2 separate regions of the Homo sapiens genome follow, and region 1 is linked to region 2. A link means that fine-mapping ties the variant in region 2 to the expression of a gene that starts in the linked region. Tissue or cell type: thyroid. Region 2 holds a variant in brackets; the other region holds the start of a gene. All regions are shown on one strand. Distances are from middle to middle.

Region 1 (8,101 bases), 380 kb after region 2:
GTACAAGTGATATTTACTTAGGATGCAGGTTCCAGACACCCTTCTAGAAGCCCTCTCCTTTATTTAATCCTCACAATGAGCAGGGCACGGTGGCTCACTCCTGTAATCCCAGCACTTTGGGAGGCCGAGGCGGGCGGATCACGAGGTTAGGAGATGGAGACCATCCTGGCTAACATGGTGAAACTCTGTCTCTACTAAAAGTACAAAAAAATCAGCCGGGCGTGGTAGCAGGCACCTGTAGCCCAGCTACTCGGGAGGCTGAGGCAGGAAAATGGCGTGAACCCGGGAGGCGGAGCTTGCAGTGAGCCGAGATCGCGCCACTGCATTCCAGCCTGGGCGACAGAGCAAGACTCCGTCTCAAAAAAAAAAAAAAAAATCCTCACAATGTTCCCAGGAGGAAAGCAGTAGTGAGCCCATTTTTTCCAGATGTGGAGACTAAAGCTTAGAATGTTAAGCAATTCGAACTGTATTTTCTATTCCAGTTCCTCTGGCAAAACTCCTTATTCTCTGAAGCAGCATTTCTCAATAAGTTGGGTAAACTGATCATTACTTGGCCATGGCTTGGCCTCGTTATACGGGATGGCCATGCGCTGCAGGACATTTATTATCTGTGGCCATGGGCACAAAATACCAACAGCAGCCCCCAGCAGCAGTTCCTACATATCCCAAATGTGTCCAGGGACAATGTCACCCAGCAGTAGAGGTAAACTGTTCTAAAAGATTTTTTGGGCATCAAGACAAAAGACTGAAGAGAAGGGCACTTCGAGGTGGGCAGATCACGAGGTCAGGAGATCGAGACCATCCTGGCTAACATGGTGAAACTCCGTCTCTACTAAAAATACCAAAAAAATTAGCCAGGCATGGTGGCGGGTGCCTATAGTCCCAGCTACTTGGGAGGCTGAGGCAGGAGAATGGCGTGAACCTGGGAGGCGGAGCTTGCAGTGAGCTGAGACCGCGCCACTGTACTCTAGCCTGGGCGACAGAGCAAGACTCTGTCTCAAAAAAAAAAAAAAAAAAATCTCCCATCCTCAAATCTGTCAGAAATCCCTTATTGTATCACATTTAGGCTTCCAAGAAAGCCCCATGTACCCTTATAGAACCAGTTACAAAACCTCCATGAATATATTTGCCATGCAATTCATGAGCATTGAGTACCTATTATGGGCAAAGTACTGTGCTATGAGCTAGGAATATAAAGTCCAAGTCTAACCCCCAAGGGGGTTAGAGTCTAGTAAGAGGCAGATTAAGTATGATAAGTATTAAGATAAATGTGAGCAGGAGGCACTTCCCATAGACTGGAAAGAGTGCTGAGAAGGCAGAAGAAAAAGGAGGGCTGGGACAGTTTCCCAGAGGAAGTGACATTTTCCCAAAGGCTTGAAAGACCAAGTAGGAGTAACCAGGAAGGGACTGGTCCAGGCTGATATCTTTGCAAAGACCAAAGATAGGAATCATATTTGAAGTTAAAGTTTAAAATACTTCCTTCATTCTTTGAGACCTCATTGTGATTCAAACTCAGGATCTCCTGTTTACTAGACAGGTACTTTAACCAAGTCACTAGAAAATAAACTCTCCATAGTCCACATGTACTTCCTTCCTAAGTTCTTGTTTTTGTAAAGTCTGGCTTCACTGGTGTAATCACCCATCACGCAAGAAATAAGACAAATTTATACTTCTTACAGGGAACAAGAAATTGTTTTCGAGAACAGTGTGGACTAGCAACAAAGAGGAGTGTCCCTGTCTTGGGGACACAGGAGTGGTGAAGACGAGAGATCATAATCAGTGTCACCTGATGGGTGACATAGAACGGACACTTAAGGAGTAGGTCAACATATCCTTGGTCTCAAGCTCAAGATGAACTTTATCTCGGCTTTTGTTTTGTTCTTTGGCATCTGAAGTCTTGACTATCAAGCATAACGATGCAAAAAAAAAAAAAAAAAAAAAAAAAAGATTCTCACCCTACTGGTACATTTGCACAGAAAAGAAAACCTAGAAAAATCTTGATTGTAAGAGAGAGAGAGGATTTCATTTTTGTTAATAAAGTTAGGAAAGCTGGAAGTGGCTGGCTGTGGATCTCTGAACCTGAGATAGCCCAAAGGCAAGAGTTTCCCGAGTTTATGGGTGCTGAGTATAGGAGCTGGGTTGTTGCTACTTCAGGTTGTTAAGACAGTCGTTATAAGGGGAGCAAGAGTCAGATTAGTTCAATTTCTTTCTCCTGGGGCAGGGAGGAGAGGGAGCAGCAAGCCAGCCTCGTGGCCTTCTCGTCTCTAGCCTACAAGGAATAGGCTGATTTCCCCTTGGCAAGGCGCCTGAAGCAGCTGGCAGGCAAGCCCTCCTCTTCCTACTTCAGTACGCCCTCTGACCTGACTGCACTCAGAAACCAAAATTCTGCAGGTGAATGTAGGCTCCCATTTCGTCCCACAATCATTTCATCATTCAGGCACAGCTTGACCTCTAATGTGACATCACAAACCCTTCCGGTCCACAGTTTTTTTTTCTTCTTCAGAAACTACCTAAACAAGGAAGTTTGTGTTCCAAGGTAAGATAACCTGAAATGAAAAACTCAGGATCCCTCACGAACAGCCTGACCCTGCTTTCAACCAGGAAGTTCAAGGGAGGCAGGACTTTACGGTCAAAACTGCAAAGCCGAAGCTCAAGACTGTAAGAAGAAAGTGATCTTCAAAGAAAAGGATTCACCCAAATCGAAGAGGTTGTTGCACTTCTTTTCCCTGGCTGATTACATTTCATGTCTGTAAACTTTGCTAAGCCCGGGGCGCTGGCTGTATAAGCAGAGACAGGTGTAGGGACACCTCTACCCTCTGGGTACATCTGCGGCCGCCGCTGCTGGGTGCATAGGACGAAGGGCCCTCGACCCAATCCCAGTCCAAGCTTCCGGATGACGCACCTGGGCTGGGGACCTCTCCCACGTGAGGGGGGCCAACCAAGCATCCCCAGCCCCGGGGCCACCCAGCCTGCTCCGGAGGGAGGGGGCAGGGAAAAAGGGCATCTCGGGGCCAAAACCTCATGCCGGATCCTCCGGCTTTCCCCCCATTTCCAGGATATCGTTTCGCATCAGGGACACTCGTCTCCACACCTCCTACCTCAAAGTCCTACGCACCTACCCTTCACGTCTCTCCAAAGCAACTGAATTAAAGCGCCTACTGGCCTTGGCGGCGCAGGTGAGTGCCAAGAGGTGGAGGAGGAAGGGGCCCGCTCTCCGCCACCCCCTTTCCTCGCCTCCCCACGATCGCCAAGCTTCATCGGGGATGTGTGCCTTGGGGTGCGCGGGTTAAGAGGGAGCTTAAAAATGCCCCAAGCGTCCCTTACCTTCCACAGCCATTCTCTCAGAGCTTCCCTAACGCATGCATAATTTTCTTGGCCGAGGTACTCCTCCTGCCCCGCGCTCCCCCCTTCCTCTCGCTTTCGCCTAAATATTCTGCGCTTATCTGCTCCAGGACCAACCTGCCGCGGTCACGCAAAGCGAGGCAGCCGGCTCCCGGCTCGGCGCGCGCAGGGCGTCCTGGGAAGTGTAGTTCCCTCCCTTCGCTCGGACTGGGGAGAGCACCCCGACTCCTCCGCGGAGTGCCGCCTGGCCCCGACACTTGGAGAGCAACTCCAGCTTCAGCTGGCCAGGCCGAGCAATCTCTCCTGGGGAAGTTGTGAGGGGACCAGGGATGCCTGGTTGTGGCGGGGCGGGGGGGGAGGGGGGGGGGGTTCCCGGGAAGCGGTCTGGACTACATCTCCCAGGAGGCCGTGCGCTGAGATAGGTTCGCTGCTAAGAGTAGGGACCCGTGATTGAGCCCTTCCCTGTCCATTACAAGGGGTTTGGCACCTAGCAGGTGTGGTGAGGTGGGCAGGTGACGGTCAGCTGTGTGATGAGCTCCTGCGAGCTCGTCCGTGGGCCTCTGCCGCCGGTACCGCCCCGCCCCCTGGCCTCCTGAACCACCATTTAGTAGGGAGAGCAGGACCACTGTCCTCCTGTGTGGTTCTCCACCTGGGCCAGAGAACGCTGCCCAGGGTGAGGTTGAAACTTGTTCCTTCGCACCCTGAGATGTATGGGTTTTGTGGGGGAATTCCGACGGTTGATACAGTTGTCTTATCCTACAGGGTGGTTCAGGTGGCTAAATACTTGGCATGGGGGTGTAGGGGAGGAGGAGTGGCTTAAACCCCAATAGGCAACGTCCCCAAGGGGTTGTTAGGAACAAAGTCTGGGAGCCAGGATTGCACCGGAGGAGGTCAGATGAAAGCCTGTCTGGCTTCCAGGATAGGAGGCTTTCAATTTGCCTAGACTTGGAGCCTGTTGACAGCCTGTGATAGGGCCTAATAATTAACAGTGCCTGAGAATCAGGTTCCTTCAACTTCTGAACCTATGTCCTAGCTGTAGGTGCTGGGGATGCTATAAGCAGACATGATAATGGGAATCACGTGGATAGCAATACAATTCGACAGCTCGTAAAAATTAAGTTTCTAAACATTTTTTCCTGCGTGTGAAAATACGGATACAGTTGTGGCTGGAAGGGGTAAGGGAATAGCCTCGGGAATAAATCTGGCTCAAGACTGGATTGACTTTTAAAGGCCTTCAGTTTACAAATGTATTTGGTACCACATCCACCCAGTCACTCATATATAATGTTAATCTCTGTAAAATGAGGAAGTACAAAAATCGGATTCTTCCCATGATGACTACTTAGACATTTTTGTGTGTCTTGGTCATCAGCAAAAAAAAAAAAATGTTTTTCAAAACAATTTCGTTTCTCAGTGTATACATGCACACCTGTTGTTCTGGTCACTAATTACATGCTTAGTTCCCCTACTGGGTAATATATAATAATAATATGTGTATAGGTACTTTAAAAAATACCTGCGTGTAACCATTAAATGCTCTTGTTGATACTTTAATTCTGAGTCCATGGAGCTGTGTACAAGTCAAACCTAAGCCTCTCTTTTAGGTACAGTAGAGAGAGACCCATTCAGTGAGACATAATTTCCATGGGAAAAAGAATTTTCCGACCTAATACACAGCCAAGCATTCTAAACTCTGGAAAGAACTGAAATCCAGGTGCTTCACTACTTTATGTATATAAAATCACCAAAGTGTTAAGTATTTTCTGAGATTGAATGAATGTGAAAGAAAGCCATAGGACAGGTAGTATCAATGGTTCTCAACCTTGGCTGTGCATCAGCCTTCTACAAATATATATTCCTAAGCTTTTATCTTAGTCTCACAGAATCAGAGCTTATGGGGGTTTGGGTAGAGGCACTCAGGTTTTAAAAACCCACAGGTGATTCCAGTCTTCATTGAGGGTGAAAACCATTGGTCTGGTTCCAAGCTTTTAAATATCTGGGTGATATAAAAATATAAAAGTCATTGAAATCTGTGGTTAATTTTAAAACTTCATCTTAGCTCATCTTTAATATTTTTCCCAGTGATGTGCATTCTAGACGAGTTTTATTTTTAGTATAAATAAAATGTGAAGGAGATGTTAGTTTCTACCATATGAAATAGCCAATGTTTGACCATTTTTAAAACCTACAAATAGAACAATTTCATGTGGTTCTGCCTAATAAGGGATAAACAATAGTTGCGCAGAGGTTTTCAATTCTGGCTGAACATTAGAATCACCTGGGAAGTACTAAAAAAAAATTACATTTATCTCTAGAATGTTTGAAAGATAAAGACACAAAATACCAACCGTTGGCAAGATTGTGAAGCAATAAAGATTTATATATTGCTGGTGGTGTGCAAATTCACAAAACCACTTTGGAAAACCATCTGAAATATTCAGCTGAATATATGCTTATCCTGTGACCCAGAAGTTCTACTCCTAGGTTTACACCAAACAAATATGCATACAGATGTTCTCCAAAAGACATGTGCAAGAATGTTTGTGGCTGCATTATTTTAATGTTCCCAAATGGAAAACAACTCAAATATTTATCAACACAGATTGGAGAGATGAACTGTGGTATAACCAAATAATTCCATATAGCAGGGGTCAACAAACTAAGACCAATGAGCCAAATATGGCTCACCATTTATTTCTTATAACTCACCAGCTAGGTGTGATTTTTACATTTTTAAATGGTTGGAAAAAAAACAAAAAAAGTATAATTTGCAAAGCCTGGAAATTATAAAGACATACTTACATAATATCCTCAATTTTGCCTCTTGTCCTACAAAGCCTCAAATATTTCCTACCTGATCCTTTGCAGAAAAAAAGCTTTCCAAACCCTCCTATAAAGTAATGCAAATGAAGGAATTACAATTGTATACAACAACATGATGAGCCACATGTATTAATCGATTGCTGTTAACAAATTATCCCAATATTTAGTGGTTTACAACAATACCCATGTATTACTTCAGTTTCTGTGGCTCAGTAATTTGGGCACAGCTTAGCTTCTGCTTTAGTATCTTTCACAGACTGCAATCATGACTTATTTTTGGTCTTTTTTATCAGCAGCCAAGTACAGTTCCTAACAGATATACCCAATTTTAGCAAGGGGCAAAGTCCAGACCTCATCCCATACCTCTCATAAGCCAAATTCTGTGTTCATTATGATGCTATTGTTTGTTCCTTATAGTATATAAGCACTTCGAGTGCTGGAACTGAGTCTTATGCTTCATATCTTCCAGATTCTTGGTCATAATTGTGGTTACATAGTAAGTACTCAATAGATAATTTATTACTACTATTTTTTTATCCTTGTTATAAGTAGCATTTGTTGGGAAATTACAAGTGCCAAGCTCTGTCTAAGCATCTTGACATACATCATCTCCTTTAATCACTACAATATTGTCAGATATCACTATTTTCCAGATGAGGAAATTGAAGCTCAGTGAATTTAAGTAATTTGCCCCATGTCTCCAAAACATGAATTGTAGCAAGGGGATTGAGGTCTACCTAAGTGTAGAACTCTGTGATGTTACTCCATCTAGATTTCAATACTGATTACGTGATCACAAATCTGAATTCATAAGCACTTGGCCAAATAGGAATTGTCATTACTAATAAAATGAAGGGTTTAAAATATTTTAATATCAGAAATTGTGATATTTAGAATGATTCAAAAATTTCTGAATATATCAGAGAGCACAGAAAGGGAAGGAAAAGCCCATTACCTTATAGTGAATTAAATAAAAAAAGAAATATTGAGATGAGGCTACAGATTTCACTGGATTCTAAGATTTAAAATAGTACATATAAGTACTTTACTGTATTTATTGTTCTAACTCGGTTGCTATATTCACAAGCCTCTACAGAAAACATTCATAAATCTCAAAAAGTAAATAGATTATGTTTCTATTCTGTTCAGGGAGATCTTCTAAACCTAACCAAAAGGATTCAAACCCTAAAAAGTAAAATTTTTGACAGGAGGAACTGAGAGGAAAAAAATAATTTTTTTGTAATTAAGATAAAAAATACTAACTCTAATCCTTGAGTCATGAATAAAGTGCCAACCATTCAAGTTATATCAGGCTTCCATTGGAGGAAGTAAGCATATTTCAGGGAACATGATTTAAGCAAAAGCCTAGTTGTTTTTGCTTAAATCACATTGTGCATAATTAAATCGCATTGTGTGTTATCTGTTTGTTGATAAGTTGGTGATATTCTATACCATCGTTCGTCTAAACTATACTTTCAAAATCAGACTTAAATTATGTCTTCAAAATTTGAGCAGAATCTGTCTACCTTTATATTAACTGGTTATCTGAATATTTGGCTTCAGTACTCAAGTTTCGTAGACATACAGAACTAGATTGTAATCCTGACTCTCATTTACTCGATGTTGGTTATTAGCAAAGTTCTTTGACATTTCTGTGCCTTGGTTTTCCCACATGTATTGTAATGCTATTAATTGTGTAATGTATACATTACCTAGCTCACAGTTTGGGGCTCAGCAGTGACTGAGAGAGTATCTATAGTGTTGTGCGCTGTCCTGGCACATAATGGATGCCCAATAAGTGTTTGCTCTTTTGATCATCCATGGAAGCCTGAGAGGCCATTCCCAAAGAACATGGATATAATTCAGTTAAGCAGTAGCAAGGGCCTCAGGATATTTGCCAAGTGTGGAGTAAGTCTGCCCAGTCCGACTTGTAGTT
Region 2 (8,109 bases):
GTTGTGGTCCTAATAGCTATGTGTTGTCAAACCAATAATATGATGAGAGTCTTGGATTTGCTGTTCCTTTCCCCAGCTGTAAGAAGAGAAGCCTGGAAGCCCTGTCTATGGGAATGCCAAGAGCCAGCTGAGGTTATATCACAATGCCACCCAGGGCCTCTTACTATGAGAGGAATTGGAAGGTGGGAAGCTGGAGGCAGAAGGCTGGAAAGCCATTAGCTCAGGCTTTCTAATCTTGTAGGACCTTGATTGGGACTTCAGATGTCTTTGCCCAATAAAGTATTTTTTGTCATTAAAATCATGCAAATATAAGAATCAAATGTAAACATTAAAAAAATTCAGAAATATATTGGTAACTGCATCTTGGCACTGTTTTCTGCTGTTGCCTCTCTTCCATCTCCTCCTTCCTTTTCTCCCTCTGTTCCAATGCACTGCGAGCTTCAAAGAATGGAAGCAAACAAGGCCTTTCTCAAACTGTATCAGGTCTCCATACCACCTTCTCTATCAAAGCTCATGTGACCAAGATTTGAGCTGCCTACATTTGTGATTTGGTTATTTGTCAAAAACAAAACAAAACAAACAAACAAACAAAAAGAACTTCAGAATATTAAGTAGGAAAGCACAAGAGCTCTCTAAAGAGACACACATGGCTTTAAACTCCAGCTCTAGAAATACTTCATTAAGCTTCTGTTTCCTCATCTATAAAATGGGGGTAGTAATAATATCTCACTCACAGGACCACTGAGAGGGTTACGTGAGATCATGCATCTGACATTTTACCAGTGTTTGGCATAAGTAAGGGATTATACATGCTAGCCAATATTTTTGGTCTCAAGTCTTAGTATCCAGAAAGCTAGTACTCTAGTAGCCAGAATTTTCCTTTGTGATAAAATCAATTAAAATTTATCATTGTAATCATTTTTAAGCATACAGTTTAGTGGCAGTAAGTGCATTCTCATTGTTGTGCAAACGGAATTTCCTCCTATTATGTGGATAAGACCCTTGAGACCCTGAATCATATCTCAGGACTTGCCCAAAGTCACAGCGAGTCCTGGAACTTACATCTTCCAACCCTTCAGAGTTCCCTAGAATTTCAAAGGCTATCTCCTTGTGCTGACTCAGCTGTTGGAATGAGTAGTGAAGCTATAGACATAAATTATATCATTCATCTAGTCAACACATTCATTCTATAAATATTTTTGAACATCTACCATGGAAAGGACACATGCAAGAGATTAGACAAAAAGCATCTGTTATTTCTTTACAATAGCCTTATCAGTATTTTGGTTAGTTTTTACTTTTGTCCTTTTAGAAATGAGGCCATGAAGATCCAGACAGGTTTGGTAACTCTTCCAAGGCCACAAAGAAAATAGTGAAGATGGGATTCAACACCAGTGGACTATCACTCCAAGAGATTTGCGTTGAATCTGATTACAGGGCTTGTTAAGATTTTTTAGGAATACAGTTTTTTTCCTCAAGCCATAACAACATTATACCAATATGGTGGAGCAGGTCTTTTTTTACCATGGAAAAAAAGAAAACACCCAGATTCTTCTGTGAACCAGAAGTACCTGAAGTGGAAAAGAAATTAAGTCTCATTGTCATACACTGAGAACACTGTTGAATTATCACACCAGGGTATTCTTATGCCATGAGGATGGGGATGATGGTAGTGGTGATGATGATGATGATAATGGTAATGGGAATGGTATGGTGATGATTATAATGCTGATAATTATCAACCATGGATCACCTAGTACATACAAAGCTCTACATTTAGATATATTCATACATGTAATATTTGCTGAGTATCTTCTCTTTGTTAGGCACTAGGAATATAGTAGTAAATAGGACAGCTATACAAGGTTCCTGTTCTCATGGAATTTACAATCTAATGAACGATAAGATTTTAAACAAATAATTGCATATAGTAATCCTCAAACAGCCATATGAAGTTGGAATGATGACAATAATAACAAAACTACCAAGACTCTTCTATTACTGAGTACCTATTATGTGCCAGACACTCTTCTAGCTGCTTTACATACAAAATATTTTGTTCTACAGGTTACACAACCTTAATGGGCACCAGTTTCCTCCCAGCAAATATGAGCACAGATGGGTTTTTCTTACACCAAAGACTTTCCATCATACTCTGCTCTTAGGCTAGCCTTGGATTTATTTTCTACCCAGGCCATTTGTTCTTCCCATCCAGGGTTGGGATCTCGATATGTGGGCTAGGATACCAAAGGGTTTGGGTGCTCACCTTCTAATGGCCACCAGGTCTCTGTAAGCAAACACTCTTTTTTCATGTAGCCAACATAAAGGGAGACAGAGATTCCCAGCCACAACACTGGAATCTTCATGGGGGCTGTGTGCAGGTTTCTTCATCTTCTCCACCCTATAGAGCCCTGGAGAAGATGCCATCTCCATTACAGCGGGGCTTTCCCAGGACATGGAGGTAATTAGGCATGATCTTGGTCATTCTTTTGGAAGAGTCAGGGATATCTCCATATTCCTGAATATCCTAGGCAAGATGGCAATAAATTCATTAATAATATTATCCAAAATTTGTGCAGCCTGCTTCAGCTTACCTCTCACTAGCTCATAGGTTATCTCAGGTGATCCTCATTAAAATCCCTGTAGGGTATCTTTATTTATAGATGAAACTCAGCAGCCCTGTAGAGAAGCCCACATGATGAGGAGCTAACGCTTCTTGCCAACAGCCACGTGAGTGATGTTGGAAGCAAATATTCTAGCTCTGGTGGAGTCTTCAGATGACTGCAGCCCTGATTGACACATTGACTGCAACGTCAAGAAAGACTGCATCAGAAACACCCAGTTAAGCCACTCCTAGATTTGTGACTCTCAGAAACCATGAGATATAATAACGTTTGTTGTTTTAAGTGGCTAAATTTTTGAATACTTTGTTAAGCAGCAGTGGATAACTCATACGAAATTTAAGAATACAGAAATTCATTTTTGGAGTCAGACAGTTCTGGATTTGCATTCTGGTTTTGCCAGTTATGAGCTTTGTAACCTCGGGCAACTCATTCCACATCTCTAAGCCTCAATTTCCTCATCTGCAAAATGGAGGTAATAATGGTATTTGTACCCTAGGGTTTTTCCCCCTGAGTAATTGAAATGGTGCTTGTTAAACACAATGCTTGGCACCTAGTACGTAGTCAGTAAATGGAAGCTATAATTATTGTTATTATAATCTTTTGAGCTCATTTGGCAAATATTTAAAATACTGATTCTTCTTAAAGTGCCGACTACAAGCGTTGCTCAATTGGATTATGCAAAAGGAATTTTTTTACGAGGGAGGCATGCTCAGTCAGAGAACACAGGTCTTGCTTGAGATTGCCCGTGGTGCTGAAGGACAAGCCAAGATTAAAGAGTCAACCAGCAGTTGACTGAGCTTTTTTCTCCTTGTCCACAAAATGCTGATGAACAGCATTTTGTAATGTAATTAAGATTACACTGAAGAATGAGCCCTCTATCACCCCATCATTCAATCACCTTTTCCTTTACCAGCAGGAGCCAAGAGCTCGGCTTTACCTTCCCCTACAAACAACCACCTGACCCCCAGCTCATTAGTGCCATCCCTGGGATAGTATTCATTGATTTTAGGGACCAGAGTCCAATATTTCTCTCCCATCTGTCTTTATGGTCTGCACCGAGGTCAAAGTTAACTACATACTCATTTTCCGGGAGGACATTTCCTGATGCGAGAGTGATTAGAAACTTCTTCTTACTTCCCATTCTTCATACTCAAGTTTCTGTTCTTCTTGGCCCAATGGTTCATTCTATCTGTGTAATCTGAGGGCAGGTGTAGAAAATGGCTTACCTTGAAAACCATAA[A/G]TTATCTGTACTCATCACTTTCAGAACAGGACTCATTAAAAAAACTTATTTCCCACAACAGTGTTCAGAGAGATGAGTTGCCTTTTAGCACACTAACACCTCTGCCTCTTTTAAGACCATTGAGCTTACTTCTTAGACCAATGTAGTAAGTCAATCCATACTTATCAAAACAAACATTTTGATGTGACTATCTTCTTAAGTGGTAAGTGACTTTTTCATGGAGAAGTTTAAGATGATTATACCTTTTTGGAAATAATCCCAACTCTTGATAAGCATACTGCTGGCCTAGGGGACAAGGGATTTGCCTGTTTGTTGTGGCGTGGCAACGGATGAGCTCTGTGAATCTGGGCAGGTCACGACATCTAAGTCAAATCAGTTTCCTCATCCATGAAATGGGGATACCTGCTCACCTACTCTTCAAAGTTTTCATAAAAATCAAATGGTATGGTATCAACAAAGTACTCTAAAAATAATTTAAATAGCTTCAATGTATATAAACATTCCAGTTATAAGAAATTCCGCAATAAATAAACCAGGTTTTACTAATATTCCTCCAACACACAAAACAAAACAATGATATTTGAGTGATATATGCAATATGTGTATTTATTTATTTGGAGACTGGGTCTCACTCTGTTGCCTAAGCTGGAGTACAGTGGCACAATCATGCCTCACCGAAGCCTTGACCTCCCTGGGCTCAGGTTATCCTCCCACCTCAGCCTCCCTAGAAGCTGGGACCCCAGGCACATGCCACCAAACCATGGCTAACTTCTGTATTTTTTTGTAGAGACAGTGTTTCGTCATGTTGTTCAGGCTAGTCTCAAACTCCTATGCTCAAGTGATCCACCCTCCTTGGCCTCCCAAAGTTCTGGAATTACAGGCTTGGCCCCATAAGTGTAAATAATAAAACTGTATGGATAAAAGAGAAATTAAGAATTTACATTTGGCAAAGGAACTGAAGAAAGAAAGTTAACACAAAGATGACAGATTGTCAAAATATAGGCCAGAAAACCTTAAAGTAGGTATCTTGAATCACAAGAAAATCAGACAAATACCAGTAGTTAGTCTCCCATTATCTGAGGCCTTGTTTTCCATGGTTGCAGTTATCCTTGGTACAGTAGGTACAGTAAAATAAGATATTTTCAGAGAGAGAGAGAGATTCACATTACTTTTATTATAGTATATTGCTATAATTGTCCTATTATATTAGTTGTTGTTAATCTTTTACTATGCTAAACTTATAAATTAACTTTATTATAGGTAGGTATTCTGAGGAACAAACATAGGGTTTGATATTCTCTGTGGTTTCAGGCCTCCACTGGGGGGTCTTGGAACATATCTCCCACAGACAAGTGAGGACTGCTATAAACAGAAAAAAAAGGCATGACCACCTTCCCTGCCCCTGCCACATCCCCACTCCTGCCTCCAAATCTAAGGATTTAAACAGGTTTCTCTCAAAATGAGAAATGTAACTGGCTAAGGAGTATGAAACTATGCTCAAAGTCCCTGATTATCAGAAAATGCACATTAAAACAGTCAGATACAACTTTACATCCATCAGATTGGCCAAAATTAGAAATCTGGATAATGCCATGCACTCTGCAGAGAGTAGACAATGGTTTCCCCATCTGGGCTACAATCTGGCAACATGGAGTGAAAGGAGGCCCTCACCTGCTCTATGATCCAGGAAGCTCCATCTTTGGTCTAAAGCAGATAAATTCTTCCCAGTTATTTATATGAGGCAACCCACATGTATTTGACTAGGGTAGTAGGTAAGTAAAATGTGATGGAATGCTAGGCATCAAATAGAACCTTGAGCTAGATGTACACATAGTAACATGGTTAGATTTCAGAAGCAGTGTTGAATAAAAATGAAAAACGATGAGGTCTTAGAGCACAATATCATTTGTATGGATTGCATATATATCCACACTCAATAGTATATATTAAAAATATATCAAATGTATTGGCATTTTTGCATTAGTGGGTAGGGAACAGATGTGAAATTTGAAAACAAGGAGGGGAAAAATCCACAAGAGTCCCTTGAAAGAGCCGAAAAAATGGTATGCCATGAATCAAGTAGCACTGCTAACTCAACTCTGTGCACCTGAGATGCAAAAAGATAACCTGCATGCACTGTACCACTCCATTTTTTTTAAAAAAAACTATATACTCAGGTGCACATATACACTTGAAAGATCAAAGGCATTTGCAATGAAATATTAACAGTTGTTATTTCTGGGTGCTGGCACGGGATATAACTGTTATTTTCTTCTTTTGCTTATTATCTGCATATTCTAGACTTTCTACAGTGGATCTGCATTCCATTTATATGAAGGAAACAACTTCATATAAAATTACTTAAAAATCCTGGAGATATATGTCATGTTTTCCTGTCTCAGTAATCTGCACACATACCCAGAGTGTGAAACTTTGAAGGATTATGTCCCTGAAAGATGACACAAGTCTTCTGGTTGTTCTTCTCATGGAAATGGAGAGGTGTAAAACTTTAAAGAGCTGAGCTTTTGGCAGTTGTATTTACCAAAAGAAAGAAATCTGCATGAAGAGAGAGAAAATGGCACATTGGGACAATGATTTTCTTTCATTGGCTCCCACAAGATGCACAACTTCTCTTCCCTGGCACACAGTTTCAGCAAGGTTTATTTCTGGAAATAAGAGATGAAGCCGAGTTTTATATCTCAGAGTTAAGGGAACCCTGAGAATAATACCTAAGGGTTCTTAGAATCCACAGCAATTCTGACTTTCACATCCATCTTATACAGGTCTTCATCATGACCACATCATGACTTTTTGATCCCTGATTTACTTCAACCAGCAGCCATTGTTGGAGTACATACTGCGCATATATAAAGGTGCTAATTCATTTAACTTTCCAAAAAACCCTTTGAGATGGGTATTCTTGTTATCAATATTAGCAGGTTAGAAAATTAAAGCACAGACAGTTTAAAAATTTGCCCAAATTCACACAGTTAGTAAGGAGCAGATTGAAGATTTAATCCAGCCTGGCTTCAGAACCTAGTCTTAGTGGGTGGCTAAAGACCATTGTCTCTAGGAACTGCCAGATCTCTTTTCCCCTGCTAGAAATCCATTTGCAAGGAACACTTATATATCTGTCTTCTTCCATTCAGGTGTCAAATAATGCCATTGGCTTTTTTAATCACTGGGATTTTGAAACATTTGCAGTCCTTTCCATGGTGTGGCCCTTTCTGTAATTTTTTTTCACAAGGAATAAAATCTAATCACATTGATAGATGAAATACATATGTTGTTAATAATGATTATCGTAGCTAAAATTAAAATTCCTCTGAAAGAGGGAACCATCTTTGTTGGATAAAATTTTGTGATGAGCTCTACAGGGTAGAATGAGGACTAGTGCTCAAAACCATAAAAGTTGATGATAAAATGCCCTGAGTGAGATAGTAAGAGGAATTTTGTTTTGTGCCCAGAAGGAAAGTAGAGCGAAAACTAGGAAAGGAGAAGGAGAATTTATAGAGAGAAACCAAAAGAAGGCATAAATATCTGAAGGAATACCAGACACTAGCCCTGTGTAGGGTTTTATAAACAGGGATGTCCAAGGATAAATCTGAAGGTCTACAGACAACTTCTCTTCCTGGCACACATTCTCAATAGGGTTTATTTTTGGAAATAGGAGAGGAGGGTGAGTTTTATATCACAGAGGCAGCATGTGTGGAAGCCCAGAGTTAAGGGAACTCTGAGAATACTTAAGGCTTCTTTGAATCCACAGCAATCCTGACTTTCACACCCATCTTATTTAATATCTAGGTCTTCATCATGACCACCGCTGGCAAGCCATTTATTTTCTGCTTCACCAGGCAAACAAAACCAGGGCATGCCAAGGTAGGCAGATAATTATGTTTTTTGGAGACAAGATATCAAAGTTTACTAAGAAGCCTCGAGTTTCTGTGATTAGACACTGAGGTCAGAGCAGTTTTCAGAAGAGCTTCTCCAGCAACAGTGAACTTATTCAACAGCCTAGATCACCTGAAGATGGGAATTATGGAACCAAAAACATTAGGCCTACCGGTAATATAGTCTGGATGCCGCAAGGGGAGGAAGGGAGTGTAACAATTTGGCCATAAACTGTCCCAGCCACGTTACACGGTTCATTTTATGTAACTCTTATAACCCTGGGAGGTGGAGATTATTATTCCCGTTTATACAGGAGGAATCTGAGCTCAGAGAGATTAAATCATTTGGGCAACA

What was found. PIP is the estimated chance that this variant, and not a neighbour inherited with it, causes the effect.
Region 1: SAMD12 starts here. The variant in region 2 is fine-mapped to the expression of SAMD12 in thyroid (GTEx, PIP 0.99).

Annotation. Positions count from the first base shown.
Region 1 is chr8:118,618,480-118,626,580 of GRCh38, forward strand. It overlaps SAMD12 (sterile alpha motif domain containing 12), which reads right to left and starts at 3,484. Exons shown (of 4, transcript NM_207506.3): 1 at 3,325-3,484. The coding sequence starts at 3,337. SAMD12-AS1 (SAMD12 antisense RNA 1) reads left to right here and starts at 2,522. Exons shown (of 5, transcript NR_038210.1): 1 at 2,522-2,707; 2 at 3,056-3,176. RefSeq lists enhancers at 2,477-2,526, 2,557-2,766, 3,377-3,576 and a silencer at 3,677-3,826.
Region 2 is chr8:118,237,449-118,245,557 of GRCh38, forward strand. It overlaps a transcript of SAMD12 not described here. Among named protein-coding and RNA genes, the nearest start is that of EXT1, 130 kb to the left of the region's middle. The variant A/G (reference allele first, on the strand shown) is at 3,865.